4 linked regions of the Homo sapiens genome follow. The protein of the gene in region 2 interacts with the protein of the main gene of each other region in a pairwise test. Each region holds a gene or a part of one and is shown on either strand. Other genes may lie near its edges. The genes, in order: USP54, FAM124B, MIPOL1 and KCTD9.

Region 1 (7,814 bases), on a different chromosome or scaffold from region 2:
TTCCTGCCCATCCTCCTGCTCAATAATACATGTGCTCAGAATCTGTTCATAATGCATGGTGGTAAGTAAGTAGTAGTCCGAAGGTCCAAGGAGTACCTTTCTACCTCTTCTTTGTGTCAATTTCTATCCTGAGACCCCAGGAAAAGAGGAAGGGAAAGACCCAACAATGGATTTTTTCCAAAAAGGGAACCCACAAGCTATTTTTTAGAGGGAAGAGTCTCGGGAGTGAGGCACAGGTGAAAATGGATCTTTCTGGCATGGAAGGGCCATAACACCACAGGGGAAGGGAAAGGGAGAGGCCCCCACGGAAGGAGAGGAAGGAAGGGACAGGAGGCACGTCACAAACTTATAAGATAGAGGGAAGGCACCTGGAGTACATTGATCAGGAGTGAGTCTGTAAGAAGAGCTTGAATCCCCAGAAAATCTTCCTAAGGAGGGGAGGAAGGAAGTGTATAATGTACTGAGTACTGAATGCTCTGTCAGGAAAGGGATGGGAAACATCCTAGCAGCAATACTAGAAAGGAAAGGCACCCTATTTTAGGACCCATTGATTCCCACCTTGATTGTATATCCTTCAACTCGTCTCTGGCTCCTCACTTCCACTCAGTCAAAAGCCACTTCATATATTTATCCAGACTTCCAGCCCCAATACAAAGAAAGCAAGAGCATACAAAGGGAAGAATGACAAGGAATTAAATAGAACTGTCTTATAGATTTATTAATGAAAAATACTTTACAAAAACAGTATGTTTGGCCTAAAATAGTTCAGCTGACTCTGAGGGTTTACATTGACGACTGAGCAAGTGGCAATAATGGCTGTGTTATTGAGGACAGAAGGCTGTGTTAGTGTGCCTGACTCCATCTGTTCAAAAGGGTGAATGTTATGTTGGCAGCTCCGCATTCTAGGCCTAAGGTTTGGAGGGCACAGGGAATGCTGACAGGCCATAATACCTGGGCAGGGGGGCTGCCCTGATGATGTCATCAGAACCATGACCACAGGGCTACATGTCCCCCCAAGGATGGGAGACAGGGAAGACAAAGGGTCAGGTAATAGGGATAGGTGGATAAAACAAAGAGTAGAAGTTGGGAGTATAGTAGGGAACAGAGGATGAGGGCTCAGGTGGAGGTGGGGACATAAAGCATCCAGGAATAAAATGTGACCTTAAAATCCTAAGGAATGGCTAGTATCCAGAGTAATACCATGGATTCATCTTTAAAGTGGCTCAGATAAAACCCTTAAACAGCAGCTGCTTCCTTTTGCTAGGGGGAATGGAAGTTGGAATTTCAAATATCCCCTCCCAAAGAATCACATCTTTTTAGAGGTTCCTGACACCCTTAGGAGAACCCACCAATTCTATGTTGAGATGAGAATAGCACAACCATGGCAGTGATGCAGGGTACCAACGCTGCCACAGTAGTTTATTTTGTTGTTGTTTTGTTTTGTTTTTTGAGATGGAGTCTCACTCTATTGCCAAGCTGGAGTGCAGTGGTGCGATCTCGGCTCACTGCAACCTCTGCCTCCCGGGTTCAAGCAATTCTCCTGCCTCAGCCTTCCGAGTAGTTGGGACTACAGGCACGCACCGTCACGCCTGGCTAATTTTTTGTATTTTGGTAGAGACGGGGTTTCACCATGTTGGCCAGGATGGTCTCAATCTCCTGACCTCGTGATCCACCCGCCTCAGCCTCCCAAAGTGCTGGGATTACAGGTGTGAGCCACCGCGCCCGGCCCACAGTACAGTTTTACAAAGAAAGGTGTAGCTCCAGGAAAGGAAAGGAATAACCTTTACCATTGACTGTGCTGCAGGACTCTAGCCCTGATCTGCTCTCTTCTGGGAGCATCTGATAGAACAAACAGAAACCCCTCTCCCACTGTTCTCCTGTGTCCAGAGTGGGAGGCATAACTGCTTTGCCTCCAGTCATCATCTGGGGGCATATCTACTCTTCGAGGACCAGGGGTTCGGGACCCTGGAACAGGATCTGAATTCCAAGCTGACCTCAGGGGTACATGAAGACTGCTAGATGGTGGGTACACAGGATGAACAATGGGAGGGTGGGAGGGTGAATGGAAAAGATCACTCCAGGACTGAGTGTGAGGAACCTGAAGGCCCTTGCTTCTTTCTGGTAGTGTGGCAGTGTAGGTTAGTTGAGGATTGCACCCTGGAGTAGTCAGGAATCTGGTCCCAATATGCTGGTTGGTCTCTGACCAGGGTGCCCAGGAGTTGTCTGTTCTGGAGCGATGGGGGAGGCTCTGGTAGTTCAAAGTCCTTCCTGTGTACTTGGCCCCTTGGGAAGTTTCACCCCTGTCACACATAGCCAGAAACTGCTGGACACTCCTTGAAGTTCCTGGGGAAAGAAAAGAAACCCAAAGACTGAGCATCTTCAGAAAACCATTCTCCTTCCCAGAGAGCCATGCCTAGCTGTGTAGCCCAATTCCCTACTCCTCCAAGAGCATACATACAAGGGAAAGAATGAATCAAGCTGTGCTTTTGATTCCATTTCTTAAAATTCTTAATATACATCAAAATCAAATCTCATACCTCCAACCTGGGCAAATGAAACAGTCTCATGGATGTTGCCATACCTCTACCTCCCTCCACTATAATCTCTCATCCACTATACACACACCTACAAAAGAAGGGCTCCCTAATATATAGCAATATATGGCAAACGTATACTCCCTTTGTGATGACTATACTCCTAGAGCCACCATACCAAAACCTCACGCAGCTTTTCTTTTTAAAAAAAATAGAGACGGGATCTCACTGTGTTGCCCAGGCTGGTCTCGAACTGCTGGACTCAAGTCATCCTCCCATCTTGGCCTCCCAAAGTGCTGGAATTACAGGTGTGAGACGCTGTGCCTTGCTTTTTTTTTGTTTCTCCAACTTTTCTTAAAATGTTACCTTCACTTCAGTTAAGCTGCCTTTGTTTGATCTCTGAGATCTAATGTGGAATGCCTTTTCTTATACATTTATTCAACTTTGGCACTCTTGGTATCTTGGGCTGATAATTCTTTGTTGGGGTTGGGGAGAGACTGCCCTGTGCATTGTGTGATTTATTAATGAAAAATACTTTGCAAAAACAGTATGTTTGGCCTAAAATAGTTCAGCTGACTCTGAGGGTTTACAACAACAACTGAGCAAGTGACAATAATGGCTGTGCTGTTGAGGACATCCCTGGCCTCTACCCACTAGATACCGGTGGTACATCCCCTTTATCCATTGAGAACCACTGCCTCAAGCTTGTACATCCAGTGCATGAGGGGAAAAAAGAGAACATCTCACTCGGAAGGTCAAAGAAAGCCAAAATGATATTGCCCACCTTCCCCACAATTGTCTGGGTCTGTACACATGGTGTGGGTACTCCATGTAAAGGGTCTTTCCAATTCTCCCACTCATTCCTTATCTTCCTAGACCATCCCTCAGCTGAGACTCAGAGGATAGAAGGGGAGAAAACTAGCTCAGAGGATAGAAGGAGAGATGACCATTTCTGTTCTGGGGATGTCCCAAAGACTGGGTATTAACTCCCCTTTGTCAGTTAAAAGCTTATTCTGTCATGACTGAAGCAGGTCATTTTCGTAAGTAGACAGACTCTAGGGGTGCTGGTCTAAACCCTTGGTCTAAGAATCATGGTGCCCAACAAATGATTTAATATTTATCTAGATAAATGCACGACTTTGAAGCAGTAATTCATATCTTCACACCACTCCACCTTGGGATACCCCCCTCCCCATAGGTATACTGATTTGACCCTTGGAGGCCCCTGAAAAGGTACCAAATTCTGGCATATAATATTAGATTTGGGGGAGTTACCTGGGAGTCTATTGGGCTCCCCTGCCATGGTGGGCATCAGGACATCTGGGGACAGGAACTGTGGTTGGGGAAGGTAGAGTTGGGGACCGAGGAGAAACACAGAAGGGTCATGGATGACAGGGAGGGAAGAGGAGCTGGAACAACGGTGCCCGGTTTCCAAAGGCTTCCTCACGTTTGATGAATCCTTATAATGAGACAAGACAAAAAAACATAGAGATGAGGATTAACACAAAGCAGGATGTAGTTGGGTAAACACAGTGAGGCAAGCAAAGGGAAATGGAGGGAACCAGAGCACAAACATGCCTACATGCCTTGTTCTGGAACAGGACCCAATTTACTCAGTTGCTCTCCCTGCTAGCCCTCTAAGAAACTGCAAACTTCAGATCCTTATCCCTTAACCAGTCTTCCTCATATCCCTCACCTTCCCAACCCTATCATTCAGGTCTTTAGCAAACTCCTTAATGCTAACAGTAGAATTAGAGAGATTGAGATAGAAATTTAAAAATAAAAACGAAATATGAGAAATTCAGAAAGCCTGAGAGAATGAGAAAAAAAAATCCTTCACTTATTCTAAGTACTGGGAATGAAACTATATATGTTTAAATGTAGAATCAAGAACTCTACCCCATCTTCTCTCCTGTCACTGCTACACATTCCACAGCTTCCTCTTTTGCCTGTCAAGTTTGTATTTACTGATGCTAATGTCCTGCTCTACTCCCTATTAGTTATCTACTTTTATGATAAATACCCAGAAATATTCCCCTTTAACATCTGAAACACTAACATATCCAAAATTGAACCAAAATCCTTCCAAACTCCTCCTCCTGGCACCTCATTTTCCTAAATCACCCATATTCAAACATTGGCAATGACCTTGATTTCCCACTTCCCATCCACAATTCCATTACTTGCCAAGGACTATCATTTCTACCTATGGGTTTTATATTTAAATTCACCTGGACTACTGCAACAGCCTTCAATCTGCTTTTCCTATCTCCCATCCACTCCTCCTTACTGTGGCCTACAAGGTCCTGTGTGATATGGCCCTGCTGCTCCTCACTTTATTTCCTATCATTCCTGGAGCTTTTACACTCTAACTTTAATATTCCTCAAACACACCAAGCTCATTGCTACCTCAGAGTCTTTATACTTCCTGTTTCTGTTACCAAGAATATTCTTCTGATGGCTCATACTTTCATATCACTGAGATCTCTAATCAAAAGTTACTTCCTTAGAGCTGATTTCCCTCACTACCCTACTATCAGGAATAGCCCTCAAAAAAACCACTATTACCTCTTTACTCTTTATTCTCTTGCCTTATTATTCTTTATCATACTTATCATTGTCTGGCATTATGTCATTTATTTGTTTATTGTCTTCTCCCCTATTTCTTTTTACTTCTGTATCCGCAGCACCTTGAACAGTGCCTAGAACAATGTGGGCACTTAGTAATAATACATTAAATAAAATAATCTATATGCCAGTATGTCTAATTTCCTTTACGAGACTGCAAGCTACTCAAGGGCAGAATTTGTGTTGTTTCATCAGTGTATGCTCACAGCACCTACTACAAAATGGCACAAAGTAAGCATTTATCATACTGCCTAAGGACCAGGTGCCAGTCCTCTCAGCATGTGACACAGCTAATTATTCCTTTCTTCTTTTTTTTTTTGAGACGGAGTCTCGCTCTGTCACCCAGGCTGGAGTGCAGTGGCGCAATCTCGGCTCACTCACTGCAAGCTCTGCCTCCTGGGTTCACACCATTCTCCTGCCTCAGCTTCCCAAGTAGCTGGGACTACAGGCACCCGCCACCGCGCCCAGCTAATTTTTTTGTATTTTTAGTAGAGACGGCATTTCACTGTGTTAGCCAGGATGGTCTCAATCTCCTGACCTTATGATCTGCCCGCCTCAGCCTCCCAAAGTGCTGGGATTACAGGCGTGAGCCACCGCGCCCGGCTATTCCTTTCTTCTTGAAACACTCTCCCCTTGGTGACTATGGTACCACACATCCTTGGTTTCCCTTCAGTCTCTCTAATCTTTTTTTCTCAGTCTCCTTTTAGGGTTCTTCAGAAGAACCACCTTAAATCTGATGCTCTTTAGGGATATGTCCTGGCTCCTCTTCTCTTTCTGCAAGTCTTTTCCTCTTTTTCAATGGCTATGATTCCCAGATTTCAATTTGCAGCTTATATATCTCATTCCAAAAGCCTGCCAGATACCTCCACTCAAGCTTAATATATGTAAAACTGAATGCATATCTTCCCTCAAATATATCATTATCTACCCATAAAACTTGAGTATCATCCTTTATCCCCACTCCCAACATCCAGGCAGGCACCAACTCCCACTGATGTTTACTTCCTAACTGGGTCTCAAATACATCGACTTATCTCTATCCTTCCAAACTACTTACTGTGACATACAGGGCTGTCTGTGGTCCATAATATTCTTTGTATCCTCTCTTGTCAACACTCTCCATCATCTCCCCTTGCCAGACTTTCTAATCCTGCCATACTAAATAAGCTTCTTTTAATTCAGTTAATATTTGCTCAGGTCCCTTTTACTTGCTATATTCTTTTTGCTTCCTCCAGGAAGCCTTCCATGATACCTCAAGCCTGATTTAAATATCCCTTCTATTATGTTCCCATAGGATCAAATCCTTAACACATTATAACTGTTTGTTTATTTATCCGTCCCTCACTGTAGACTGTAAGCTCCATAAAAGCAGGGACTATATCTAACTCACCATTGTAGCTCCAGCACCTAGCACAATACCTAGAACACACTCAATAAGCACTTATTTATTTGTTTATTTTTGTGCTAGGAATCTTGTACAGAATCAATAAGCATTTATTTAAAAGAATGAATCAATGAATGATACAGAAGTCAGAAGAAAGGAAGCCAACTCTCCTAGGAAAAGAACAATTTGCCATTAAATGAATTGAAAGTACATGAGAACAAATGCTAGGCAGGAGAGTCCACCTTTTCCAAAAAAGAATGGCAGCCTGATCAGAATTGCTTAGGAATTTATGAACGATAAATTGAATGAAACTTACTATAAATTCGGCTGGGTTTTTTTGTTTGTTTTGTTTTGTTTTTGAGACAGAGTCTTGCTCTGTTACCCAGGCTGGAGTGCAGTGGCTCAATCTCAGCTCACTGCAACCTCTGCCACCCGGATTCAAGCGATTCTCCTGCCTCAGCCTCCCGAGTAGCTAGGACTACAAGCACCCCCCACCATGCCTGGCTAATTTTTATATTTTTGCCATGTTGGCCAGGCTGGTCTCGAACTCCTGACCTCAGGTGATCCACCATCCTTGGCCTCCCAAAGTGCTGGGATTACAGGCATGAGCCACCACGCCTGGCCTCGGCTGATTTTTAAAAATTGGAAAAATGAGTACCTCTTAGGAGGGAAACTGAATCTGAAGGGCTGGTAGAAGACAGACTTGGTTTTCACCATATATGCTTTTATACCTTTTTATTTTTGTACCATGTATTTAAAATCTGTTTTTACATTTTTCCTGAACTGACCTAGTGGACAACCTTCAATGCACTGGTACTTTGTACCCTGACCTCTACTGTGATGAACACTCAACTTGGGCAAGGAAGTGAAATTCTCCAAAGGTATGATTACCTACAAACCTAGCCACTGATATTATTTAAGTTTGTTGATCTCTAATGGCTTGGGCTTTCCTGCCTCTTCTACTTACACATTACTGCACTAGTACCATATGAAAATTCTCAAGAAGGCTTTTTTCCTCTTCTTGCTGATACACATGCATCACTTTAGATTGAAAACACACTGAATTCTATTCAATCACATACTGGGGGTGAGAGGAAAAAGCAAACCAATACTCCATCCCATTTCTTTCCTTCTTTCTTTGATTAGTGCAGTGGGTTCTGACCCAATCAGCAGCCTTTGCTTCTCAGATTCCTCTCAAGGCTTTATGACTCTTCTCACCCCAGGAAACCCTACAACACGCACGGCCTTTCAGAACTGCTACATGGAAT
Region 2 (7,724 bases):
TGGACTGGCTTCCTTGCTCTTCAGCTTGCAGACAGCCTATTGTGGGACTTCACCTTGTGATTGTGTGAGTCAATACTCCTTAATAAACTCCCTTTCATATATACATCTATCTATCCTATTAGTTCTGTTCCTCTAGGGAACCCTGAATAATACAAGTAGGATAGAATAGATGACATTTTAAGGGTATATTATTTTACAAGTCAATTTTGTAAGGTGCCTGATTCACATTTCTCAATATTCTTTATAATTTTCAGGTACTTTTATTCTTACCCATGTATTATATTAAGAAAATTTAGATAACATCAAAAAAAAAGTGGGAAGGAAATTTCAAAACTTCTTCCTGCTGTGCTTATTCAAAGTTCAGTAGTTCAACTTCCTTTTTTGTTTTAACTCTTATTATAGAAAGCTATACCAAAGTTAAGCTCTTCATCCCGTTTTCTAAAATCAAATTGTAGTCTAGGGGAGAGAGAGACAAAATGGGAATGAGAATATGTTGATGTTTTAAGGACAAAAAATATCAATTGAGGAGTCTTGTCTTTGTCCATTTACAACTCTCCTCCGTTTCTATCCCTTTTGCGGAGAAGAGCACCCAAAATCAGCCTAGACTCACTTTTGCAAGATTTGACTTTAGGACTGAACTCATCTCTGTCTCCAGTTAGGTGTAGTAAGTCTCCAAGTCTCCAAAAGATCCAGCTAAATCAACATTTACACTCTTATGTAACATCTGTTCTGAGAGTGAAGTTCGTGGAATTGAATAACCTTATAAATGAACTGAAACACAGGCCTCGGGATTTTTAAACATGTGTGTACAGACATATCCAAAAAATTCAGCATATGGGCAACGAGAATTTGTCCATTGCAATTATAATTGCAATTCATAATATGCCCAGTCTCCATCTGCAGGTTGCAAATGCTTATTACACCATTATGTGGCCAGTGTGGGCCTCAACTGTGGAAAAAGTTTTTGGAGGAATATATTTGGAATTCAGTATCTTTTTAAAAGTTGGTAGAATGAATTTATCAGAGTGGTGAAACCATAAACACTTTTTGGGTTTCATGGCCCCAGAATGTATATGTACCATATACACAATGTCTTATTCAAATGTAGGTATTCAAAAAATGTTTATTGAATGAACATATATAAATGAATGAATGAGTGCGTTTTGTAAAGGAATCTGGGAGTCAAAATCTGGCCAGAAGAACCCAAGTCCTGCTCCAGTGACCAGATCAACCAGTCCAATTTTCCCACTGTGCTCAATGTTCCTCTTTGGTTTGTAACAAGAACCACTGTCCTCTTTGACATAGTGCAGAAACAAATGAGAAGCAGATGAGCAGGAAAGCCCTAGAGCCTAGCATTCATGTTCAACCTGATTTTCTGGCTTCCAGTATTTTGGCTCATTAAACAGGAAAACAAAATTAACTGTTTATAATTTTCAAAACACTTTGCATTTTCACTCATTCCAGATACAAACAACTTTAAAGACAAAATCACAAGGAGGGTATGTGAACAAGGCCTAGTTACCAAAAGAGGTCACATGAAAATTAAAAAGCATTCAAGAGTAAATAGCAGTCCATATTGTCCAGGGGGATGAGCTATGCAACCTAAGTAAAAATTAAAACCAAATTACAGACACTAATTAGTGTTGTATAACATACCGATTCATTTGCATACAATGCAATTATCCTGATAGGTGCTGGATTCAACACATCCAGCTGGGTTAGTGCATCTCCACGGAACAAAAGCATTCGGTTTTTTTCCCTGTGTGTTGGCTGTGTTCTCTTATGACTGTGACGGCAAATAAACAATCATTCCCAGCACCTTTAGACTTTGAACATTTGAAATAAAATCAATACAGATTGTGCATGGGGAGCATTCAGCCCCCCTCAGATGAACAACTAACAGGCTGATTCTGGGTCAGTACTCCATTTCTAGAACATTTTATCTGATCTTGTGTTTTAGAAAACCACATTTATTTTATGCTATATAAAGAATTCTTCTTCATCTTCTTCTTTTTCTTCACCCTGAACTTGCAGATGAAGGAGACATTCTGAAATTGTCTTCCTGGTACCAAGGTCCCTTTGGCCAGCAAGTGGCAAAGGAGAGACTCTTTCCTTAAGGACACTGTTGTTTTTGGAGGTAGCCACCCCCAAGGAAGAGGCTGGCAAGCAGAATGGTGGCTGGCTGGTCTGTAAATCCCTTGGAAATCCGCCAAAATAAGTCTGCCTGGGTTCAGAATTTATGATGGTCAAGCCGGTGTCAACATTCGTCTCGGCCTCAAGCTTCTGAAAGCTGTTTTCCCGGTTGAGGACCTTCATTCTGGCCCCGGATTCAAGGTGATGAGAAGACAGGTGCAGGTGGGCACCCATAGCTGGGCTGCTGACCTGGAATGACCGGCCAGGGCTTTTCCACGAAGTGCCAGCACACCTGTCTGATGTGGGGCTCCCACTGGGCTCAGGAAGCTCCAGAGAATGCCCCTGGGACCTCTTGCCCTGGTTCCTCTGGCTCCTGGGTTCTGAGGTCCTCTTTGCAGAGACAGAAGTCAGCCTGGAGCCCAGGGGAAGCATGCCAGCTCCCAAGATGCCATTCTTAACACCAAGTTCTGGATTCAGCTGAACCTACAGGAAAGGAAAGGAGGAACATATGAAACATAATTTCCATTAACTAAGTGCCAAGAGCTGACTATGCCTTATTCACCCTCTGCCATGCCATGCCCATAGCAGACTTTCAGTAAATTTGGTTGAATTGAATAGAAGTGATAAGTACAATATAATTATGAGATATCTAATCAGACCCAGCCCCAAATACCTCTCTTTGGGACTCCCTAAATTAAGTTTTTGACAAGGGTAAGACTTTGGGAATCAAATGGCCAATTGACAACACCACACTTCTGGTAGAGCAAGTTGTTCAAACAATGCAGACATTCACAGATGTCATTCAGTGACCTCACTGGATGTTGTAAATGATATATTTATTAGCAACCATGTAAAAAAAGAAATTTAGAAAGCCACCAAACCATGTGGTTAAAGTTAAGATAAGGATTGAAGTAAGAATTCAATCTTCCAAAGCTGGTGATCCTTCTTTTAGATCATGCTAATAAAAATACATATCTTGGGCCATTCTAAGACATGTGACCACTCCAGACGGCTAATAATTTGGCAGCAATATTCTTTAAATTCTTGGGGCACCATTTATTTAGATTAGAGGCCTGGTATTGCATGAGAAAACAAAAAGGGGGCATGGCTTATATGGAAGTTTAGGTGTTTTCATCCTTAGCAATTCCACTCTGGTTACAAACTTACAGACACCACTCAGCAAAACCCTCACCCTGCAGTTGACTGCACTCTCCCTCCACAGGATGGAGTTCACTGACCCCCCTTTAAGACTTCCACCCTTGGGAGCCTTGCATCCTATTCCATGCACAACACTCTTCCCAAGAAGATTTCTGGAAAAAGGCAATTTTTTCCATTTTGATAACAGCCCTTGGAAATTTGTATCCAGGATCCATCCCTACCTGGCCCAGCCCTTAATCAAATATCAAGAAGAATGATACGGAAGAACTTGCAATAAATACTACTAACTGAAAGAAGCCTATCTGGGCTCATGCCTGTAATCCTAGCCCTTTGGGAAGCTGAGGTGGGAGGACTACTTGAGGCCAGGAGTTCAAGACCAGCTTGGGCAACTAGCAAGACCCCATCTTTACAAAAAATAAAAACATCAGCCAGACGTGTGGTCCATACATATAGTCCCAGCTATTCAGAAGGCAGAAGAGGGAGGATCCCTCGAGCCCAGGAGTTCGAGGTTAAATTGAGTTATGACTGCACCACTGCACTCCAGCCTGGGTGACAGAGAGAGACTATATGATGCCAACTATATGACACTTTGGAAAAACCAAAACTATGAAGACAGTAAAAAAATCAGTGGTTGCCAGGGGTTGGGGGGAGGGAGGGATGACTAAGTGGAGCAGGAGGACTTTAGGGCAGTGAAAACTACTCTGCATGATACTGTAATGGTGGATGCACATCCTTATACATTTGTCCAAACCCACAGAATGTACGACACCAAGAATGAACCCTAATGTACCCTATGGGCTTTGGGTGATGGTGATGTGTCGTTGTAGGTTGATCAGTTGTAACACATGTACCACTCTGATAAAGGATGTTGACAGGAAAGGAGGCTCTTTTCGGGGGGAAGGTTGTATATGGGAACTCTCTGTTCTTTCTGCTTAATTCTGCTGTGAACCTACCACTGCTGTAAAAAATAAGGTCTATTTCAAGGGAGAAAAAATAATGATACATATTTATCTTACAAGGCAAGAAGGCAGAAATGAGGACAGTGAGAAAACAGGTCTAGAAATCAGTAAATTCTCTCTCTCATACACACACACACACACTCACACAGAGCATATTTGTTTGTATAGATGACGCAGAGTACATCTCAATTTTCTGATAGAAATGGTGAGGTGCATATTACCAAGCTGCAAAAACAAACACACAAAAAAACAAGGACTTCCACTGATTCTTTTAGAATAGAAGTTGGCAAATATTTTCGGCAAGGAGCCAGACAGTAAATATCTGAGGGTTTGCCGGCCATATGGTCTTTATCCCAACTATCCAACTCTGCTGCAGAGCAGCCATAGACAATATATAAATGAATGGCTGTGTTCAGTAAAACTCTATGTATGAACACTGAAATTTGAATCTCATATTTTTTATGTGTCATGAATTTTTTTCCAACCATATAAAAATAGAAAACTATTTTTAGTTCTCAGGCCACAGTTGACCAAGCCCTATTCTAGATCAATGATTCCCTGTCTTTTTTTTTTTTTTTTTTTTTGAGATGGAGTTTTGCTCTTGTTGCCCAATCTGGAGTGCAATGGCGCAATCTCAGCTCACTGCAACCTCCACCTGCCAGGTTCAAGTGATTCTCCTGCCTCAGCCTCCCTAGTAGCTAGGGTTACAGGCATGCACCACCACGCCCAGCTAATTTTGTATTTTTAGTAGAGATGAGGTTTCTCCATATTGGTCAGGCTGGTCTCAAACTCCCAACCTAAGGTGATCCATCCACCTTGGCCTCCCAAAATGCTGGATGACAGGAGTGAGCCATCTCTCTATCTTAAGAAGTTTTTTTCCAAACAATTTCTTACCTGGAAGCCCAAAATATGAAGCAATCTAATTAGCGCAGCCCTGGTTGACGTACAGAGGGTAGCCTCTGCCTACGGGACCCCCTCTCTAGTTCCCCAGGGCTTCACAGAACCAGCTTGAAAACCACTATTCTAGAATATCTAAATTCTACCCCTGAGCCAAGCCAGTTCATTAGAGCCACACACACCTGAAACCCCTATCGCAGATGTGCTTGCACTGAACCACAGCTGAGTGCAGTGCCCCAGAGTGTGTTGAAGAGAGCTTCCACCAGCATCAGATACTCTCTCTAGGGGCGACACTGTTGAAGGGATGCCCACTGCACCGAAGGACCTGTCCTTATGCAAACCCATAGGAGAAATTTCTGTTCCCAAACTTTGCTGCACAAGGGAACATCCTGGGATCATTAAAAAACAATGATGCCTGCTCCCAGCCCATGACCTCCTGATTTCATCAGGTCAGAGTACACCTGGCTGTCAGAGCTGATAAATCTCCCCCAGTAATTCTAATGTGCAGCGAAGTTTCGGAACTACTGCCATGGACCCAGAAAAGCTAGGCTTCGAGTAGTCAGTTAACTTGCGGTCGTTGTGAGTCTGTTTCTTATCACATACACCCGACCTCCTCCTCCATATTTCTGAAAAATTCTTTGCCTAATTTCATTTTGCTATCTCTCTCTACATTTCCCTTTGCTCTAATTCCACAGCTCCGCCCTCCCTCCCCTCCTTTCTTCCTTCTCTCCTTCCTTCCTCCTGCCCTTCCTTTCCTTTCTTTCCTTTTCATCTGTTTGTTTTTTTAAAAAAGTCTTACTATAAAAGTAGTAATTTATCACCATAAAAATAATTTCATTGTACAAATGTATAAAATAAAAAGTAAAGCCTTCTCCCTATCCCAACCTCAAATCACCCCCAAATTCTCACTTTCCAATGAAGACTATTTGCTTATCCTTTCAAAATCAGGAGGAAAAAATACTATCTCCGAAATGTCAGCTGGGGTTTCCCTTCCCCTGGAGAACAAACTCCCTTAGTCCTTCAAAGGGCCAACTGCCATCATTGCCTCTTGGAGAATCATTTGACACTGTACCCTTGTATCATAATGTACCTTTTTAATTGACCCAATGACATCTTTTTCTTCTAGAAATGGAAACTGGCATGGATATTTCCATACTGAGAAATGGTTCAGGGTTGATATTAGATTATCCAATCTGGAGAAAGAAATCAATAACTTTGACTCTGGGGCTTGTATTTCATTCTCTAGCAACTGTGAACACAGAGAGAAGCCTGAGTAATCGCCCCTTGCCATCTAAATCAATGTCAGATCATAATGAAATTGGTCCTGAAGCCCCAACCAGTGCCGAGACATCTCAGGGCAGCCAGGAAGCGCCCTCCTGGGCCAGCCCAGCTCACCCCTCCACTCCCCTCTGTCACCCAGTCCCACAGCCCCTCCACTGGGCCTTCTCCACCTGCAAATGTCCCATCTTTGAAAGATTCTATTTAAGCCAGGCATTCTGAGGCCATGGGCTCCGGCACTCAATTCCCCATCACATCTGCTCTTCAACATCAACACTCCCAATCCCCAGCTTCTCCCTGTCAGCCCCTCCCATCCACACTGCCTTTCAGAGTCAATTTGAGTCCAAAGACTATCACTTCAACCATTTCTTCACCAATACCTCCAACTCCCCTCACTATTCCCATTCTGTCACAGACTCCCACAAAATCTCCCCACCTTTCATCCATCTACCTGCCCACATTTTCTGAACATGTGTTCAGGATGCCACAGAAACACATCGGTCTGTGAAATGGGTGCCCCATGATGGCGTGGTTTCCGGCCTCTCCCAGGCTACCCGCCAGTCTGCCTGCTTCCTTAGTCACCTCTCTCCATTCACCCAGCAGCTGTTCAAACCTTCAAAACTGTCCTGAAATCTTCAGCAGCACCATCGCCCCCACTCTCTCTCATCAGGTGGTCTCACCATCCAGATTATCAAGGAAGCAGATGCTGTCACCAGTTAGCAACACTCTCACTGCTACCGCGAAACTTACCTGCAGCTTCACCATTCTCTCTAGGTGAAAGTGACCGGTCCCTGGGCCAAGACTCCCATCACCTCCCGCCTTCTTGGTGACCCTGACCTATCAATTATTCATTTTTCCCACTTTCTTATCTTGGATGTTTAATCTCTCTCCCTCTCCTTCTCTTTCTCTCTCTCTGCCTATTCCTTTCCAACAGCAATTAAACTTGTTCAAGTCTCGTGTCTTGAAAAACACATTCTTTCCACCCTCTCTTTCCCTCCAGGTTTCTCTGTCCTCCCCTTCACTGTCAAACCTGTATATAAAATTTGTGTAGTTATGTTTTTCTACAAACCTCCCCTTATTTTCTCTACCCATGCCACTGACAAGATAAAATCTAAGTCCTTGGATGTGGCCTGCCTCACCCTTTACTGTCTGCCTCTTCTTACACCACGCTGGTAATTCCCTCCTACCACTCCAATGAAATTGCTCTTGCCAAGGTCATCTACAATCAGCCCTCCTGTCATTCATTATTTCTTGAGCTCTTGGTAGAATTTGACCTTGAAGTCTGTACTCTTTATCCTG
Region 3 (7,814 bases), on a different chromosome or scaffold from region 2:
CTCCCAGGTTCAAGCAGTTCTTGTGTCTCAGCCTCCCGAATAGCTGGGATTACAGGCATGTGCCACCACACCTGGCTAATTTTTTTTATTTTTAGTAGAAACAGGGTCTCACCATGTTGGCCAGGCTGGTCTTGAACTCCTGGCCTCAAGTGATCTGCCCGTCTCGGCCTCCCAAAGTGATGGGACTACAGGCGTGAGCCACCTTGTCTGGCCTGACATATTTTTTAATTGGGGTAAAATGTCATAACATAAATTTATCATCTTAACCATTTTTAAGTGTATAGTTTAATGGCAGTAAGTACATTCACACCATTGTGCTCATTAGGATATTTTTTAAATAAAAGGCTATGTGGTCTTCTGACCTACAGGTCAACCTGCCTTCATCCCATCTCTGCATTCTTGGCAATATGAACTTTCTAAAATGCAAATGATGTTACTAGATGAGTTAAAACCCTTTCATTGTGTTCCCCTGTCTACATCAGTTGTTTCATCACAAAGTTTTCACAGGTTCAAATTGAAGTAAATAAAAAAATACAATATACCAAGTTTTTCTTAAATATTTTAGCTGAAAGGTTGAGTGAGTGAATGGATGGCAACATTAATCAAGATAAGAAATACTGAAACATGCATAAGAAGTAAAATAGTTTTGTTTTAAATATACTGAGTATCATAGGCCAATTGTATAAGCAAGAGGAGATTTCTTGAAGGCAGTTGGATAAGTGAGTCTAAAACTCAGAAGAGAATTTTGAGAAAGGGGTCTAGATTTGGAAGTCATGAGCGTTTAAGTGTCATCAAGGGAGCAAAATGAAAAGAAAAGATGATAAAATACATCAACATTAAAAATACCAACAAAACAACAACCATAGTGATAAAAGAAACAAAAATCATATTTAAAGTCTTCTCATCCTTCTGACTGAGAGAGGGCAAGATCTTTAATACTAATGGCAAACCCTAGGTGCAGCATTTTTAGTGACTTTGTCTCCTCCTCCTCACAACCTTGTATAAGGGTTTACTTGTCTGTTCTTCAGTTTCTTCATATTTAAAATGGAGAAATCCTAATCCTAGCTCTAGCCCTTTTCCTGTTTCATGAAGCTGTTGAGAAGATATCACTGAGTAATATTTAAAGCAGCTGGAGCCTATTTTAGTGAGCTACATAATTTTTTAAGGACATTATTGATTTGGACAGTAAGAATAGCCTGCAGGCAAATCCTGCAAGGTGCTTCAACAGACACACACGTCTACCTTCCTGTTGGCACAGCCCATGTTTGGCAGGTGTATTCCATTCCTTACAGGAAGGAATAGGTGCTTCATTGTGTTACAGAAGTCAGTAAGCTTTCACAAAACTAAGTAATTGACATCTTTCTCATTTCTGAGATCAGGTTTTCATAAATCATTCGACCTGGATAAATTGAGATTGTAGTTGATGTGGTAATTGTTGAAATACAATGAGGACATTGCAAAACATGATATTTAACTATTTCCTCCTAATCTCTTACCTTAACAACATATAAGAGTTCTAAATGGAAAGATGTCCTAATGTAGAAAAAGGAAACAAAAGTAAGATGAGCCTGTCTGTAAAGGAGAAGCCAGAAGAAGCACAACACAGATTCATCTCAGTAATTTGGGATTCCACTGATTCTGAATTTGTAGTAACAATAATAATAACTAGACAACATAGAGCTGACTTTTATATTGTGAAAAAGGTTTTATCACTAGTTAGTAGTATAAATTATATTATGGAGAAGGGATACATTTAGCCAGTTTGCAAGTAATATTTTCTGGCTTTTAACAATATATGCAAAGCAATGCTACTAATATCTTATAATGATTTCTGCTGGGAGCTATTTAATGGTTATTTCAAGTTACTATCAGATTTTAACAATAAACTTAAAATTTCATAGTGTAGTTCTATAATTCATACTCACATTTTTCTTTCCCCTCATTGCACAACTCAAGTTAATTAAACATTGCCTTAAAGGATTCATGTAGTGCTATGAGTCATAATATTCAGAGTGTGTAAGTTAGCACTAGTTTTTAACCACTAGGGAAGGTTCAAGTATTGCAGACTAATCTGAGAATACAGTGAATTTTCTAATGACTCTTCTAGTTCAGGTATTTGTACCACTAGACTGTTTTAGTGGATATACAACATTTATGTATAGTTTGCATTTTAGAAAAGTTTGTAGTAATAAACTTAGACAAGATTTGCCTTTTTACTCTAAGATCATTACTGTGTTCTTAAAGCAAAGTTTTTTGATGCACTGAATAATTTTGTTTTATTTTCCTGTTTTTTGTTAACAGAATTCTTGATAGATACAAAATCATCCAATAAACTTCAGCTAGTTTTCAGCATTATATGCAGTTGATTTGTCCATTCCTCAGTGGAACTTCCAAATCATCTAAACCAGCTTTGTATGACACTAAGAATACCCTCATTCCTTCAGTGTCTAGCTCTGTGCTGTGTTTATTTGCAGAGGACCCTCATGCATGGATCCATATAAATGAGGCAAACTGTGAAGCAGACTAGACTGTGCCGCTTACCGTAAAGTCTTTGAGAGAGGAAGATTGTGTATATGAAAACTGCTAGGCATGATATTTACTTATAAGGAAGATTTCTATGTGTATAACATCAAGCAAGATTTTTGGTTGAGGTTTTATGCTTTCAGTAAAGAAAATAAAAGAAGAAAACCAATTAATGGTCTGATTCTATCATCTTTTGTCAAGCATCTCTTACTGATCTACATGAATGTGACCTCCCGCTCATAGAGTAGTCTAAGAACACTGCAGAATGGACTTGTGAACTTTCGACTCTCTTTTCAATTTAATTGACTAGTTTTTAGTCAACTAAAAAAATCATTTTCTTTGACTAAAATGTCTATGTAGGTAATTTCTAGTGCATCTATGCTACTCAGAAATAGAAACGTGTTTTTTTAATTAGAACAAAAAGTCTGGTTTTATTAGTATCAAATCATTGTGTATTTTTAAATTATTTCCATGCTACTGTAACTTGAAATGTTTCCCACCTAACCACTATTTCTGGCTTTATGTTTATCAGCTGATTCTATGAAAAGATGGGAATTTAGTACATAGAAGTTACACAGTATACCAACCAATGAATCACTTATCTAAGTAACAGGTGAAACATTGCTGATATTTGTGTTTTGAAATATGTGCTTTTCTTAGGTAAAATCAGTTTATTCTACATTTAATATGTGATCCTGTCATTGCATAGTAAATGATTCATTCACAACCTTAATGCAAGTAGCTAAATGTATTGAAATAAGTGTCCTATAAATTTTGTGTGGCATCTAATGCTGACATAATTCAAGGATCTGGGTTAAAGTTTGTGTCGTTGCTGGGTTTTTTAACCTCAAATACTTGGCACTCTGTAGCAGTGTCTCTCACAGTAATGCTTTGTTTCTTAACATGACCGTGAGGACTGCTTGGTCACAGGCAAATACTGTCCTTTATCAGCCAGGACATTCTTAACAATAATTGCCCTTTTTTTCCCCTTCTCACCCCCATCCCAACCCCAACTTAGGTTGGAAAGGCTGGTGGATGTACTGAGGAAGAAGGTTGGAACCGGGACCATGAGGACAGTGATCTGATTGAAAAAAAACGACAGTCTGGGGAAGCGATCACATCTGGTGACCAGGCTGCTTCATTCAACACTGTGTAAACACCAAAGCCTTAACTTAGCAAACAGTTGTTAGAAGTGGGACACTCCAACCACATTCCAAGCTGAGATAAAATCAAATCACAAATGTTTAACCACTTTGCTGCTGACTTGAGTTATTTATCCAAATATATTAACTATAGACTTTTACCAATGGGTAGCTATAAGGTTACAGCTTATTTTGTAACTATTTTATATCTCAATATCTTTAATATAAATCTTTTTACTGAGAGATCATTATAGAAACATGTTAAAGTTGGTTAGGATCATATCTTCACATATGGCCCTTTCTGAATCAAAGTGCGGCAAAGTAAATATTGTCTAAGCTTTAATCCACTGTGTTAGGTCAAAACTTCAAATACATGCATTTTTCAATATAGGGTATATTTCTTAACTGATGAGAGAGGCTTAGACATGAGTGTGTAGTCTTCCTTCAATGCGTGTATGTAATCTTTGTTAGTATAAAAGATATTAAATATAGGTGCCAAGAATTAAATGTATAATTTGTTTAATAAGAGATGGATATATTAAAATTACATTCATCAAGGCATGATTTTTGTTTCACTACAAATAATGCAAACTGTTTTCAATAAAAAGAGGAGACTGTTAATGTGTACTTATAAATTCACATTGTCAGTATTTTTTAATATTGGGTCTGAATAATTATCTGAATTCTACTTAAGCTATAAGTCTCTGTCATTTTTGCTTGAAAATTAGCATGCCTCTGTCTTAAAAGAGACCATCAAACCTATTAAGTATTCTTATTGTTTATCTTTTTTTAATTGCCATTTGATTTTTATTGTGGAGGAGGAGGATCTAATATATAATATTCAATACAATTGTAATGTAGAAATATAAGAATTTAGAAAAAAGTAAACTTGCCATTTGGTTAAGGTTACCTGCTTTTTATTTTATTCCAGAAATAAGATAGTTACAGCATAGCAGTCATATGAAGTTATGAATAGAACTGAGATTTTTATGTAATTAGTTATAGGCAAAATACTTTCATATTTTTAGATTAGACAGACGAAAGACCAAGAGGAAATGACTGTGCCTGGAACAGGATGAAATAGACAAGTAGAGATTTAATTAGCAAAAATTTTGTAGGGAAGTAAAATTTTTTCTAAGTCTATACGTTTTTAATTCATCTTTAAGATTGAGCTAAATTATCTACCATTGCCTATTTACAGGATAAGTACATTCAGGACAATTTATTGTACCATTCTTTCATATACCATAGCAGATTATCCATTTCAATTTTTTTTTACTCCACAGGAAAATGTAAGCTACTTTGTCATAGATCACAAAAGAATCATAATGCTAACAAACTCTATTTCTTCCTTATTAAATCTGTATCCATTAAAGTAACTTTTTTAACTATGAGAATTAGAAAATAAGGGACAACAGGGGTTAAAAATAAACTGATTTAATTTGCTCTATAGTCCTAAAGAGAATTATATCCTCTCATAGACCAATGACTCTATAATAGAGAAATATGTAATGATTTGGTCATGCATGGAGTCTTGTCTCTGGGCTCTATTTGAAACGTGTAACAGCTCCCTATGTGAAGAAACATTATCTTTAAAGTCATCTGGGAGGTGCAGGTAAGTAAAGAGAAACAATTTTTGTCACAAAGTAGTCCATTCCTGATCTCACTTAAAATAAATCACAAGTAAATTTGAATTTTCGGTTTAATGTTGAAAGCAGATGAACTTTTCTTGAGTTATTTTGTCTTTTAGAATACACAAAATATAGTATAAAGACATTTCACAATTTCCAAACAAATCTTTCTACGCTTAAATGATCAAATTAGAAAAACCAATTCCTATAATTAATATGCAGAACTTTTATAGAATATGATATTATAAAGTTAAATTTGCAAAATAATTCTAACATCCACTATTGTTCAGTATAGGTAATCTCCCAAAAATATCACATCCTCTTGAAAATGAATTGTCTACAAAATTTCAAATGCAAAGTATTACAGCCAAATATTATCTTAATTAATTTCTTACACTTAAAAGTGTCCATCAACAGTGTGTCAGATGGTCTTTATATATTTTTTCTGTATGAAGGAATAGCCTTGCCTACTGAAGATAGGTTCTCTATGTATTCAACAATAATGCAACTTTAGAAGTATTCCACACTGCTGAGAAATGTTGCTTTGAGTTTGCTTTACACATCATCAACTCTAAATCCTATAGTAACATGAGAATTCACTTCTTCTTGTAAAAATAAGTAATTTACAGGAAAGGCAAAATGCTAATACTAACATTTGTAGCACTTGATGATTTACAAAGTCCTTTTACATCTGTTTTTTCATTTGATCCTATCGACAATCATAATAATAATAAATTATATATATAACCCATATAATAACGATGGTGATGATAATTTTAGTATTACTGTCATTATAATTATTATTATATTCATTCTACAGATGAGGAAACAGACTCAGTAAGCCTTGGAATTTGCCAAGGACTGGCTAGGACCTAGAACTAAGATCTTATAACCACACTCCATGCAACTATGAGTCTCTAAATCTCTCTGTAAGAAAAAAATTTCAAAGTAAAGATTTTACTCTTGCAATTTCTGTTGTGATAGTACCATCTCTTTCACATACTACATACAAATTCCCTAATAATCAAAAGATTGTACACATTTTTTTCAATGAAGTACAATAATGTGAACTGCATGTGTAAACAGCATCACATTATTACCACCTCTCTATGGTATTATAGTGGCAGTATGCTTTGCCTCAGCCTTCACTAATTAGGAATATTGTGACAATTCATTGCTAATAAAACATAACATGAGTCTCTTTGTACTGTTTTTAATTTGGCCTGATGCTAAAACCTATCAGCTTAGTTTTTTAACATGGTAGTCTAAACTTCAAGGCTTGCTCTATCTCCTAGAGCAATTTAGAGCTAAAACCAGTAATAAGCAAAGTTATTGGTTATAAGCAAGGTATAAGCAGTTAAAGCAAAGTTATTAATTATTAATATATGAGAATTTAAAATTTTATAAATAAGTTAGAAATTATTAATGTATTTTAAATATGGAGTAAAATATTTTGCTAATTTTTTTCAATGATAAAGTTGATCCTTTGTATATTTCCTTATTCAAATAAATTCAGTCATCTTCTTATCAGGTTGCTTATTTATATAATTTGTTTATTTTATTAAAAATCTAGAATATTAAAGATTTATACTTTTAATATTGAATATAGTTTCGTAGAAAAACATTTTATATGTACTATTCTTAAAGATCACAATTATTTTTAAACTTTCTATTTTCAAATACTTGTGATTAATAAGGCATTCTATGATGAAATAGCCATGGCTTATATATTTTTGTCTTTTCACATATGATGTGTTTGGAACCCAAATTTTTTACTGATTTTATTGTGTTGTTGGTAACTAGTATTTACAGCTAACCTATCTATTCATATTTTACATATATATATATATATATACATGCACACACACCGATACATTTACCTTTTAAAAAAATGATTTATAAGTGAACTGTTAGGCTCCAGTGATTTCAGTGTTTTGTTCATGTTTTATTGGAAATGCACGTGGTTTCTTAGGCTTTTAAACAAATACATGGAATGGTTGAAAGATTTATTTTGCTCGTGCTTAGCTAAATATGTCATCTCTAGAAAAGATGTGGTTTGTTTTGGCACTGTTTTAAAAACTCAAATATTTTAAACATTTGTTAAGTTGGAGCTTGCACATTTAAACCAGCAGCATACGTTCCAGAAGAGCATCTCAAGTTACCAAATTTTTTGTAATCCTTTTACTAGAAAAATCTTTTTTGAAGAGTTTTTCTTGTGCTTGCTTCGGCAGCATATATACTGAAATTAGAAAAAGAAAACTTTTCTTTTTTATTATATATTTTAGTGTAAGTTAAGTTAAACTTCTAAAAGTTGAATTATTTAATGTAGGACTTCATAAATAGTATTTGACAATGATAAATGTGTATTTTTGAGAATCATTAAAATGTATACAATGATATTCCTTTGCAGAAGTCTTAATATGCATAATTTTTAATCTAATTGTCTTCTAAATATAGTTTTGGTGTATGCTGGTATTTTAGAAGCCACCAATTTCTGGACTATCTGATTATTAACAAA
Region 4 (7,814 bases), on a different chromosome or scaffold from region 2:
CCCACAGACTGCATCTAAAACAACACTAGGTGATAAGGTAGTCCCACCAATACCAACAGCTATAAGAGCAGCATGCTTTCAGCGCCTGTGAAAGAAAAAGCAGAGAGAAGCAACAGGGTATATGATGAACCCATGAATGTTAAAGCCATCCATAGATACTGACTTCATTGCTTAATAAGTCTAGCTGAAAACAACAGATTGAGATCATCCCAAAAGTGGGTGATGCAAGTAGTTTGCAGTAAGATCTTATAGGGCTGAAAATAAACTCTTAAAACCAAATGGCCAAAACTCCCTTCCATGGACAAAGCCCCATACTGATAAGATGCTGGGAAAATAATCCAAGTTGAATGCAACAAAGACAACAGAGACAAAAAAAAAAAAGGACTGCAGATGAAAGTTAAGAGGTTTAATAGACCAGAATATATCAGAAAATGAGTTCTGTGTATTTTAAACACTTCACAAAAACAACAGAAAAGGGAACTCTAGAGCCATGAAATTGGAAAAACTGTCCTGTCAGCCCTCTTTTCAAGTTAAGAAAAACTAATTTCATATAAAAATGAGCAATACAAAAAGACTGATCAAATGTTAATACAAAAGTGTTAAAATAATAATTGTCCTTATAGATAATGAAAACATGCCAGAAATACCCACAAAATAGATCAAAATTATAATCTAATATTCCAAAACATGCTAAAAGAAGTTTATACAAGGTATAAAACAACAATATAAACCAGGATTTAAAAATTCAGAAATGAGTAGCAAGAACTCCCAAGAGAATTAGAAATAAAAGAAAAATGATTTTTAAAGACTAAAGCAAAAGAAATACAAGAGTGATTAAACACAATAGACAATGACTTAAGGGAAAGAAAAGGTAAAAAAGAGAATAGCTTGAAAAATTAAAAAGAAATGGTCAGACGTGGTGGCTCATGCCTATAATCCTCTGGGAGGCCGAGGCGGGTGGATTGCTTGAGCTCAGGAGTTCGAGACCAGCCTGGGCAACAGGGCAAAACCCCAAAACCCCATCTCTACAAAAAATACAAAAAAATTATCCGGGCATGGTAGCACACATCTGCAGTCCCAGCTCCTGGTTGGGGGCTGAGGCAGGAGGATCACTTGAACCCAGGAGGTTGAAGCTGTAGTGAGCCAAGATCATACCACTGCACTACAGCCTGAGTGATGAAGTGAGGCCCTGTCTCAAAAAAATAAATAAAATAAAAAGAAAGGAAAAGAAAGTTTCAAACATAAAAGACAAGTGTAAAAGATCCACCCTACATACAATAGAGTCCTGAAAGAAGGAAATCAAATCAAAGTGAACAAAATAAAAATGTCAACTTCAAGAGAACTGTACTGAAATTTTAAAATACATACACTTGAAACTATATATTGAAAGGATCCATCACATACTGAGAAAACCAATCCAGAACAACTCAGAACACCAATAAATATTCTACTAAAATTACTGTACTTTAAAGAAAGAGAAATATCCTTTGGGTGATCTATGAAAAATAATCACATAAGAAAGATCAGATTTTTTGAGACCAACACCTCAGGCCAGAATAAAATGCAGTAACATATTTAAGATATTCAAAGAAAAATAATGTGAACCAAGGATTTTTCAATAGCTTCACTGAGGTATAATTAACACAGAACAAGTTACACATACTAAAGTTTATAATTTAATAAGCTTTGACATATAATTTTATACCAAAATTATATAAAGATGGTGGATGGCAATGGCATCTTGCCATTGGAAGATGTCACCGAATATTGTTCTCATAGTATCTTGGAGAGAAATCTACTAGAGAACAAGTTTCAGATAAACACTGGAAACATAACAAAAGGACTGGAGGTAAGTGTACGCTTGAAGAAGTAAAACTAAATGAGTGTATAAAGGGAGACACTATAATATACAATGGCTATATGTTCCGACAATTCAGAAACAATACAATTATTTTTAAGTAAGGGGAGAAGGGATTTAGCATATGAAAAACATTTAACTGTTTTTAGTAATTATATTGGTACTGAAAGTATTGAGTTTGTTACTCTGACATTTTTAGATGTGTTCTGTATGGGGTAAAGTAAATGAGTAATTATGTGACATTATAATTCTATTAGTCTCCATGTCCCTGAAAGTCAGGACTATTGATATAGAAAAAGGAGACACAGATGTAAGACAGAAGAGGATAAGTAAAAACCTTATAATCCTTAATATAAACTTTAAGTACTACTATGAAGCCATGAGTTATTTCATCTATCCATATTTTGTTATATATGACATATAAACTTTATATCCTATAACATACATTATATACAAATTTTATCTCTACCTATATATTTTCAATTCTGTCCACCAAAAGGCATAGCAACAATAATGAACCCAATAGCGAAGAGCCTCCCTAGCACCCAGATTTGTCTTGGAATGACACTTCCCACTAAAAAAATCAAGGCTTGTTGGAAAAATGTTGATCCAGGTCTGAGACAGGAAAAGGTTTTAAGATGAACACCAGTTATTCCAGATAATAAGAAAGCCATAAAATCCAACAAGGTTTGTTAAAAAGACCCGAAGAGATTTCCAGTGGCAAAAAATTAAGACCATCTGAACATCAATAAATGCAGAGGATGAAAATATACCAAATATTTTTAAATCCATGAGTTAATAACAATAAAAAAACCTTAATTGATCATTTTTTATTGTGTTTGTATGCAGTGGACCAATTAAGTGACCATTGCCTGCCAGTCACTGTTAGGCCAATGGATAAAAGAAGATGAGAAGTTCTTGCTTACAGTTTTAAGGTAGAGACAGACAGACAAGAGTATGCACTTACTTCTAAGTTGACAATTGCCTGTGCAACAATCGTGAGAACTACTTCCACTCACCAAATGCAATTAGTATGATGCTTTAAAAAATACTTAAATATTCAGAGTGTGGACTGTATGGATCTAAATAAATCAAATACTTTATCTTCCTTTCGGCCTTTTCTTTTGAGATATACAACTATAAGCTTTCTTCCAAATCAAAGGGTAGTGTGTGTGCACACCTGTGTGTGTGGTTGATACCAAGTCATTTTTTGGCTGATCTGATCACTGTGAAATACTGTCAAACACTACTTACGCAAGCAATATTTACTCACAAATATGTAATACAACACGTAGAAAAATTTTGACATTCACCATCAAAGAAAAAATTTTCAAACAAAACAATTGTTTCTAAGATCAAAACTACCTTACTATGTTACAGTTAATGAATATGTATACCTCCAGAGCATTTTAACGGCATGTAAAACATGCATCTATAATAAACTACGATCATATAGTAAAAAATTTACTTTAACATACCCAATGCAGAATCAAAAAGTGTGAAGATTTGAATACAGCCATAAGATCATTTTTAATGTTTAAGCTTAATAGCCCCATTTAAAATAATTGTCATTCCATCTTTTTTTTTTTTTTTTGGCAGATAAAATTGGCTTTTAAAGTCACTTACCAATAAATGGCTCTCCTTCACAAACAAACAAAACATCATCATCCCTGGGGAAATCAAAATTTAAAAAGCTACCATCAAAATCTAAAAATCACATTAATTATCTGTTGCTTATAGGAACTATTCCTTACAATTATATAGACAATAGGTTTTGCTATCAATCTAGACTGCAAAGAAGCTAAGTTTCCAATGCTTTGTTTAACCCCTTGAACTTAACTGTCTTTGAATTTAAATTCAAAAATAAGATCTTGCACATGAAAGTACTTTTGAAATGTGGGGAAAAAAATCTCCTTACACAAACGATGTTGAGTTCAGCTTTCTTATCAATTGAGAATGAATAATTATGCTGAAAGGATAGATTAAAGTCACAGCCAACTATTCTTTTTTTCTTTACATTTTTTACCCCTAAATCATCAGCTGTTGTGTGCTTTGGAGATGAAATAAACTGTCATATTAAATCTAGGAAAAATATAGCTGGAAGTAACTCTACTGTCAGTGTTTACCCACTACACATCCACCATACACCCAAATGTAAATGGCTGCACATAACCCAGAGTTCTGGACAATCAGTGCACATCCTCTTCCTCAACCCATTACCCCAGATACTGTATTGTGAACCAAAAATGAATAAACAGATATCTTATAGCTCAGAAGGCTTCAATTATAACCTTCCATTGTAGACGTTTTTATTTCCTATAGGACATCACAGGACACGTTAAATTTTTCTAAGAAGCAGAGTTCGTGTTTGTTAAGAAGAAAGTTAGGTTGATGAGGATCATCATCCAACAATGTGACTCAGTTTTCCTTAGAAACTGAAAGAAGCTGGGAGATACATATTGAAAAACTAAGAAGTTATCCTAATTTATTTGGATTTAAAATGTAGTGTATAGTATTTCCTACTTGTTCACCATGCCAGTTTACTTTTTCAGATTAGTATAAAAATCTGTTTTCATTAACAAAACCCAACTAGCTGTATGACCTGAGTGAGTCCTCAGCTTCACAGGTAATTCGTTTCCTCATCTGTAAAATGAAGGGTCTAGAACTGATTAACTGCAAAGCAGTATATTATACTGAAAGGTCATTTTGATCTAGATTTATACAGAGACTTTGTATATCATTATAGGTTAAAGCATCATTATCTTCACATCACTGATAAAAAAAACTCATGTTTTGCCAATTAAATGGTATAACTCAGGCAAAGCAATGATAACATAAGTGGCATAGTCAATACTTAATTTGTGTTCCCTTTACCATCTTCTTTGTTAAGCATCTTCCTGCTCCAAAATTCTCTGACCTCATGAAGATGAAGTAAGGTGAACTACACACTTGTTTTAAAGAGATAAATCTGCCTGAGATATTTAAGGTACAAACATAAGCCTATAATTATGGTGGATCACTGGTGATATCACTACTTAGAATTCTATCATATTTATAAAGTTTTTACAAAATCTGGCCTTTGTAATGATTATAAAATGCAAAGCATTCTTAGGAAATGATTAACAAGCAGGCGCATATAAAAGTGAAGAGATGAATTAGATTTTTAATGTTAAAAACTGCACGTCTTACTAGATCCTTCTCTAGTACCACAAAGAAGAAATTCCTCATAGCTATATATGAACTATGCAGAAAGACTATCAGTATACTGAAATGTACTAAGGGTTTTCTAGCTGATCAATTCACCTTAAGCCCAAATGATTTAAATTCCAAAGAGCAAATTCTAGGTAAACACTTGCCAAAATCCTGTACTCTTAACAGTGATTAAATTACTGCTTAAGGGAAACAGCATAGCACCAAGAAGTTGAGGCACACTGTTGACAGCTTATAAAAAGGTGAAGGTTACCTGATCAAAGCAATATCATCAATCAGTCCACCTTTCCCATTATACACACTGGTGGCTTTTATGCCGAGTTTACTGCTGGCCACAGAAAGCAAATCAGATAAAGTTCCATATACAGCAACCACCTGTAAACACACCAGAATAATATGAACAATTTCTTTAATACATGTTATCCCCCATAAGTTATAAACTACCACACTAGAACAGTGCTAAAAAGATTATCATATAAAAGGAGACTTCAAAAGGTTCTTAACAGTGCCCCCTTTTCTTCCATGACTCATTTATTCACTTGGTGCCTAATATTGCCGACTCCTCAACTAGAACATAAGAAATCATCTCTGACCAAAACAATCTACAATCCTAAGGTGTGTTAAATAGCGCTCCAGTTGTGAAGTAAGATAGACCTACACTTCGATCTAGAGTCTGACATTTTCTAGCTGTCAACTTGAGTCAACCTACTGATGCTTCTGTTGCTTTAACTAGAAATGAAGAAAATAGTAGCACCTACTTCAGAAGGTATTATGAAATGAGTTCATGCATAAGAGCTTAGCAAAGTGCCTGAGACCTAGTAAGTCCCTATTATGTTGTCCTTTTATTATTTATTTATTTGAATGGTTCATCCTTAGAACAGGAGTGTGCTGGTACTGTTTATTATATCATTAACGACATCAACTACCACAGAAAAGATAACTTCTCACCTCATTTATTTAATTCTTCACTAACTAAGCCAGATTTTAGCATCTAACATTTAAGAACAGAGCAAACAGCTGGGTGACAATGAATTGATGTGTCCTGCTGTGAATCAAGCAGTCTGATATATGTGCAAGATACATGCAACTGTCTAAGCAGGGTGCTGAGAATTTCTACATGTAAGTGAATTTTGTGCCCTGGTCCTAACTGTAACTATGGGTTCCCAGCGACTGAGTTGTGCAGTTGCACCATTATCAGTTATGACCTCTGAAAGTTAGGAATAAAAACTAGGTAAGGGTCGGGCGCAGTGGTTCATGCCTGTAATCCCAGCACTTTGTGAGGCTGAGACGGGCAGAGCACTTAAGGCCTGGAGTTTGAGACCAGCCAGACCAACATGGAGAAACCCCATCCCTACTAAAATACAAAAATCAGCCAGGTGTGGTGGTGTATGCCTGTAGCTACTCCAGAGGCTGAAGCATGAGAATTGCTTGAACCCAGGAGGCAGAGGTTGCAGTGAGCCAAGGTTGCACCACTGCACTCCAGCCTTTATGACCAAGCAAGGCTCTGTCTCCCCGCTAAAAAAAGAAAAATAAGTAGGTGAAGAGCTAAACACGAAGCACAGTCAGCTAGCTCATGGACGTCCCAAGATTTATTATGTCAAGATGCCATATGAAGTGAGCACTAAGGCTGGTCCTCTGTCCACCAGTGACTGGAATAGAGTGGACAGTTTCTAGTTAAATAAATACAGTAAATGGAGGACATGGAAAAAGCTGCTCGATAACATACGAGTGTGCAGTTTTTCAAAAGCAGAGTACTCAGATTCTAACTTTTTTCTCTTGGATCAGAAGGATGAAAGCCAGAAGAGTGCTGGGGCATTTTGGAAAGTGTTGAAGGCAAGAAAAATTTAAGCGGAACCAAGTGCATTATAAAAAATAATGTACAACCCAAGTGTCCATAAGCAGGTAATTGCATAAATAAAATATGGTATATATATACAATGGAATATTATTCAGCAATAAGAAACAATGAGGCCAGGTACAATGGCTCATGCCTGTAATCCCAGCACTTTGAGAGGCTGTGGCAGGTGGATCGCTTGAGCCCAGGAGTTCGAGACCTGCCTGGCCAACATGGTGAAACATGGTCTCTACAAAAAAATACAAAAAGTAGCCAAGCATGGAGGCACATGCCTGTAGTCTTAGCTGCTTGGGAGGCCGAGATGGGAGGATCACTTGAGCCTGCCAATTCAAGGCTGCAGTGAGCCAAGATCACGCCACTGCACTCCAGCCTGGACATGATGGGACGGAAAAGAAAAAAGGAAAGGAAAAAGAAAAGAGAAAAGGAAAGGAAAGGAAAGAATAAAGAAAAAGGAAAGGAAAGCAAAGCGAGAAGAGAAGAGACATGAATTCTGACACATGCTGCAACATGGATGAACCTTTTTGACAGTATGCTAAATGAAATAAGCCAGTCACAAAAGGATAAATATTCTATGATACCACTCACATGAAAGTACCCAACACAGGCAAATTCATAGAGAAAGAAAGCAGAATAAAGGTTACCAAGGCATAGATGGGAATGGAGACTTATTTCTTAATGGTTACAATTTCTGTTTGGGATGATGACCAAGTACTGGAAATAAACCGTGGTGATGGTTACACACATTGTGAATGTAAACAATGTCAATGAATTACACATTTAAAAAATGGTTAAAATAATAAATTTTGTTCCATCTTTTATCACAATAAAAAAAATACTGCAAAGCACTTGGCACAGTGTCCTACACACAGCAGGCTTGCCATAAATAATTAA

What was found.
Region 1: the proteins of FAM124B (region 2) and USP54 interact in binary tests that used the Homo sapiens proteins (3 or more experiments, as listed by UniProt).
Region 3: the proteins of FAM124B (region 2) and MIPOL1 interact in binary tests that used the Homo sapiens proteins (3 or more experiments, as listed by UniProt).
Region 4: the proteins of FAM124B (region 2) and KCTD9 interact in binary tests that used the Homo sapiens proteins (3 or more experiments, as listed by UniProt).

What each region holds. Positions count from the first base shown.
Region 1 is NC_000010.11:73,496,846-73,504,659, forward strand, and holds the end of USP54 (ubiquitin carboxyl-terminal hydrolase 54), read right to left. Parts: intron 7,428-7,814; exon of another isoform or gene 7,339-7,427; intron 3,994-7,338; coding exon 3,810-3,993; intron 2,843-3,809; exon of another isoform or gene 2,750-2,842; intron 2,344-2,749; coding exon 1,784-2,343; 3' UTR 693-1,783; downstream 1-692.
Region 2 is NC_000002.12:224,377,593-224,385,316, forward strand, and holds the end of FAM124B (protein FAM124B), read right to left. Parts: intron 2,617-7,724; coding exon 1,981-2,616; 3' UTR 1,106-1,980; downstream 1-1,105.
Region 3 is NC_000014.9:37,543,364-37,551,177, forward strand, and holds part of MIPOL1 (mirror-image polydactyly gene 1 protein), read left to right. Parts: intron 1-3,541; coding exon 3,542-3,608; 3' UTR 3,609-7,814.
Region 4 is NC_000008.11:25,440,808-25,448,621, forward strand, and holds part of KCTD9 (BTB/POZ domain-containing protein KCTD9), read right to left. Parts: intron 5,444-7,814; coding exon 5,322-5,443; intron 3,529-5,321; coding exon 3,485-3,528; intron 1-3,484. UniProt on the Homo sapiens protein: Substrate-specific adapter of a BCR (BTB-CUL3-RBX1) E3 ubiquitin-protein ligase complex, which mediates the ubiquitination of target proteins, leading to their degradation by the proteasome.